Regions from separate parts of the Homo sapiens genome. Here region 2 is linked to region 1. A link means that fine-mapping ties the variant in region 1 to the expression of a gene that starts in the linked region. Tissue or cell type: whole blood. Region 1 holds a variant in brackets; the other region holds the start of a gene. All regions are shown on one strand. Distances are from middle to middle.

Evidence for each region. PIP is the estimated chance that this variant, and not a neighbour inherited with it, causes the effect.
Region 2: it holds the start of ZNF624, and the variant in region 1 is fine-mapped to the expression of ZNF624 in whole blood (INTERVAL, PIP above 0.99).

Annotation. Positions count from the first base shown.
Region 1 is chr17:16,962,266-16,964,948 of GRCh38, forward strand. The region is part of intron 1 of TNFRSF13B (TNF receptor superfamily member 13B); the gene reads right to left. Among named protein-coding and RNA genes, the nearest start is that of TNFRSF13B, 8.5 kb to the right of the region's middle. RefSeq lists an enhancer at 2,298-2,567. The variant G/A (reference allele first, on the strand shown) is at 1,532.
Region 2 is chr17:16,652,544-16,655,226 of GRCh38, forward strand. It overlaps ZNF624 (zinc finger protein 624), which reads right to left and starts at 1,307. Exons shown (of 6, transcript NM_020787.4): 1 at 1,221-1,307. It overlaps LOC124903934 (a long non-coding RNA gene), which reads left to right and starts at 1,349. Exons shown (of 4, transcript XR_007065639.1): 1 at 1,349-1,427; 2 at 1,541-2,655. RefSeq lists an enhancer at 551-1,061 and a silencer at 1,017-1,216.

The sequences.
Region 1 (2,683 bases):
GGAGACCAAGGCAGGTGGATCATTTGAGGTCAGGAGTTCGAGACCAGCCTGGCCAATATGGTGAAACCCTGTCTTCACTGAAAATACAAAAATTAGCTGGGTGTGGTGGTGCATGCCTGTAATCTCAGCTACTTGAGAAGCTGAGGCAGGAGAATCACTTGAAACCAGGAGACAGAGGTTGCAGCGAGCTAAGATTGTGCCACTGCACTCCAGCCTGGGCCACAGAGTGAGACTCGGTCTCCCCCCCCAAAAAAAAAGAAAGAAAAAAAAAAGAAAGGAAAAGAAAGGTAATCATAGGACATGTACAGCAGCTCAGCTGTGGGCAATATTTATATTGTCATAAATAAATGAGCCATCTGAGTCAACAAATAAGGTGGAGATGTGGAATTATTCCTTCTGTAAAAGAGTTTACTCACTGTGAGAGCCATTAGACCATTGTCAGTGAGCAAAGGCAAAAACAGGCTTTCTAGGAGAGAGCAAGGAGAAGGGGAAGAACAAAACTGCAGAGGAGTTGACATTCTGGAGCAGAGCCGGCAGCCAGCAGGTCTATCTTGACTCCAACTGAAAACGCACCCCTCCTTCACCGGGGGCCGGGGGAGGGGAAGCTGCATGCATGCAGATAGTGACGTCCAAGTTAAGTTCTCACCTTAGAAAGTGGGGAATCAATCCAGAGCGTCTAAAATGGACAAGTCAAGGACCAGCAGGGGGAGTGGACCAGATTCTGAGCCACTTTGGGGATGAGCCTGGGGAAAGCCACAGGGCAGCCCTGCTTGGAACCCTGGGCTGTGAGTCATGGGGCTGGTACTCCTTGCTGTGTGACCTTGGGCACGACTTCTGCTCTTGGACACCCAGCGTCCTCCCCTGTAAGATGAGGATGCTGTTGCTTACTCACAGAATCACTGTGAGCAGCATATGCATGGCAGGTGCCTAGTATGGTATTGAGCACGTTAGTAAAGACAACCCCCTGAGCTGCTGCCCTTATTAATATTGCCATTTCTTATGATAAGGAGTGCTGTGCTGGACAAGGCCTACACCTGGATCGAGACAACAAAAATTTTAGGGGCCAATTCCTGTTGGCGTGAGCCAACTCCCTCTTTTCCTCCTTGGTGGGGAGGTGTCTGTGCAGGAGTGAAGGAGCAGGGTTGGGGCGATGGGTGGGCTCCTCATTCTTGCCCTTTACAATTTCACCAAGAAAACCTGTAGATGTGACTGAAAGAGAAGGAACAGTAAAAGCTTGGCAGATAGGAGGAATTTCTTATCAAGTTTTGTTTTTGTTTTTGTTTTTGTTTTTTTGGTTTTTTCGAGACGGAGTCTGGCACTGCCACCCAGGCTGGAGTGCAGTGGCACCATCTCGGCTCACTGCAAGCTCCACCTCCTGGGTTCACGTCATTCTCCTGCCTCAGCCTCCAGAGTAGCTGGCACTACAGGTGCCCACCACCACGCCTGGCTAATTTTTTTGTATTTTTAGTAGAGACAGGGTTTCACCGTGTTAGCCAGGATGGTCTCGATCTCCTGACCTCCTGATCCACCC[G/A]CCTCGGCCTCCCAAAGTGCTGGGATTACAGGCGTGAGCCACAGAGCCCGGCCTTTCTCATCCAGTCTTTCAAGCAAACACTGACTGCAAACTTGGGCTGGGGGCTATGAGTTGAGCTCACCAGTGGGGTAGGGGCAGGAGAGGATTCCAGCGTGCAGAGATAGGGTGTGTGCCCCGATAAGGCTGCAGCCTGAGACCTGAGGGATGTGCATGGGAATGGATGGTGACCTTACAACCTGGCTTCTGCTAACTGGGAAGGAGAAGGAGGAAGAAATGGAGGAGGAAAAGAAGGATGAGGAAGAGGAGGCAGAAGAGGAGAAGAAGGGAAAAAGAAGAGAGATGAGGAAGACAGGGAAGAGAAGGAGAGAAGGAAGGAGGAGGAGGAAAAGATGGCTTTTGGTTTCTGTGAGCTGTATATGCTTTTTCCCCGGGCTATTTTGAAATACTGAAAATGGCTCTAAGACCCCCCTGCCTGCTCCCACCTCCACTCAGAATGAACCTTCAGAGATGTTCAAGGTTGAGAGTCCACCATCTCCATGCCTTTTTTTTTTTTTTTTTTTTTTGAGATGGAGTTTCACTCTTGTTCCCCAGGCTGGAGTGCAGTGGTGAGATCTCGGCTCACTGCAACCTCTGCCTTCCGAGTTCAAGCAATTCTTCTGCCTCAGCCTCCCAAGTAGCTGGGATTACAGGTGTGTGCCCCTACACCCGGCTAATTTTTGTATTTTTAGTAGATGAGGTTTCTCCATGTTGGTCAGGCTGATCTCGAACCCCTGACCTCAGGTGATCTGCCTGCCTCAGCCTCCCAAAGTGCTGGGATTACAGGCGTGAGCCACCACGCCCGGCCTCCCATGCTGGTTCTAAAGGAAGAAGAACTTAGTTAGGTCCTGGGAAAACTGGTCAAGTCACCTTCTCAGTTTTCTGTTTGTGAAATGGGGACAGCCACTTCTACCCATCATAATTTTCACCTCCTGCCAGCTCATGTTGAAAACGGATTCGCCATGGTTCAGTGACCCAGAGTGTGCCGGAGTGAAGTGCCCGTGGTGGGGAAAGCACGGCTGAGTCATCTTGGGAAGGACTCTGGCTGTGCACAACCTCAGTTTTCCTGACCTGTAAAATGGACACTCTAGACTTTCTTTTGTAGATCTTCTCAAG
Region 2 (2,683 bases), 310 kb before region 1:
CCAAACTACAATAAATCCCTTGTTTTATTTTATAATTAGAATAAACAATATTTAACATTTAATATATTCAGCTTGATCTCAATTGTGCAAATGTAATGCATAGAAAAAAAGACTGAGTAACCCAAAACTCTACTGAGACCTCTGAGACCTGGGGCTGTGATGTTTACCCTTCTTTCTGCTTTTCTGTACTCTCCAAGCAGACAAGAAGAAGTATCTACCTATACATAGGAGTGTGGAATAGGAATAAAATCCCAGAGTGGCTGGCCACATCCCCAGGTTCTAACCCTGCTTTGGCTACCGTAAAACTGTGACCACAGGCAAGTCACTTGAGCACAACGAATCAGCTATTAGTACATGACAGTAGCCACCTTATATGTTTCTACTGTCCCCTTTGTCATTATGCAGAAGATATCTAGGCCACTATTCCCCAGTTATAATTTCCCTATTTACAAGCTCTGTCTTTCCAACTATTGCAAACGTATCCAGAGACTTAAGGAGAAACTTTACTTGTTTTGCTTCCTTGGCCAGTGCAGTTATTTAGAAATAATGAAGGGTCCATGTTTTTGCTGAGAATCTCAGCGCCATGTACCAGTCCAGCATTTCCCAACCAATGCAATAATACCATTGTCATGTCAGGGAGTGACAAGTGATTAAAAGGTGATTACAGTATTTGAAATGTGACATTTCAGGAAAAGCTGCCTCGGTTACTGAGTAGCGCAGGTCCCCCGATGTGGAACCTAGTTCCATCCCTGCCAGTTCAGAAGCCAGAGCGGATATGCTCCTGCCAACCTCGCCTTCTTTCCCTAACTGCTCTCCTCTACCCACTTCGGGTATGCCCTCCTCAGGGCCTGCAAGGCGCGGGGCTGGGAAGACCGGGAAAGTCGGGTCAGGGGCCCGCCCGCCCTACTCGACTCCCTGCGCCCTGCGCCCGGCTCTTTTTAACCCCAGCGCCGCCAGGCCCGCAGGGAGGGGGTTCCCGGGTTTGGACCCGGACTAGGAGGCCGCATAGGGCACGCGGCCCTACCTGTGAGGGAGGCCAGCTGGAGACTGAACCCACACTCGGGAAGGAGGCCCAGCCCCAATCGCCTCTCAGGAGTGGGCGGGTCCGCTCAGGGACAGGGGCTCTAGAGGGAACGGCCACGCCCCGGACGCCGCCGGGAGCCAAGCGCCAAGGGAGGGGCGGCGGGCAACCGAGGCCAGGCGCCCGGGACAACGAGTACCTGGCGGCCGAACTGAGGACAACTGAGGGAACTCGCAGAGCAGGGCGGGAACGCTTCCAGCAATGGCGGCGGCTCGGCGGTGCCGGCCTCCAGGCAGGGCATTGCGCCTGCGCAGCCGGAGCGTCGGAACTACAGTGCCCAGAATCCTCAGCGCCTGAGCCCCCCGCCCCTTTTGTCTGCGTTAGTGAAGGAATTGGCTCTTCGAGGGTGAGAAAAAATTCCAATTGGATACACTTCTGTTGAGAAGCCTTGACTATGTGTCAAAAGCAATAGCACTAGAGATACAAATAATGACACAACCCTTGTCTTGGAACATTTAGGTGCGACTAAAGAAAGCCGTCGAGAGAACAGATAGATGTGATCCAGACAAATATGTGAACAAGTGCTTGGAAACACATATTTCTGAACAATTCCCTTTATGACAATTCCCTCAGAGTTGGAAGAGACAACAATTGATGACTATAATGCCAATTAAGTAGAATGGATATGAATGTCTGAAAATAAGCTGGAAATTTTAAGGCCAAAATTCTTCGAAATACAAAGAAAAAACCTTTCTGAAGACAAATAGCTGTAGAAGTTCTCCTCAATGCATACAAATGATAATTCTTAAAACACAATGACTGAAAGTATTTATTTGCAACAAATTTATTTGACCACTTATTCAAGGGCTGCTCGTCCAAGAGCTATATTAAGGTCTATTTACTTTATCCCTACCAAAGGCGGTATTTTTTGAGGATAGAAACTACATCTCATGGAGTTTATCACTCAGAGTGCCTACTTAGGAGACTGCTTGCATACTGAATGAAACGAAGGAAGAATGAATGAATAATTTGGGACCCCACCTCCCAACACACTTCCACATATCGAAATGCACACGGAATGAGGTACATCTTCTAAGGAGAGTGGCATTGAAGAGTAATCAAAACAACAGGATATTCACAGGAGGACTGGAATAAAACGAAATTTCCAGTGAAAAAGATTACTCAAAATATTTATTCAATACACTCTGAAATTAGAAACTAAGCAAATGTCTTTTGGAGATCCCAGTTCCCTCACATTCCCCACAGATGAAGATGAGCCAAACAGAAGTCCAAAACTTAAACATTACAAAACAAATAATAAAATAAGACACTGTGACTGAAAATCAGCACAAACAATAAACGGCAGAAATATATCCCCCAAAACTTCAGAGGCAGAGCTCATTTGATTAAAAATTTAAAATTATTACATTTAAAATGTTTAAGGACATGATAGATGGAATTAAAAACATTATCAACAAACAACAGAATGTAAAATAAGCCACCAGGAAAGTTTAGAGAAACATACACATTTCGTTAAACTATTAAAAAAAAATGTTTAACACAATATTTAGGGTAGATTATTACTTCTACAGGGATAAAGTCCAGGAAAGACAGACACACAGGTGACTTCAAAGGTATTGGTAGTGTTTTATTTCTTAATTT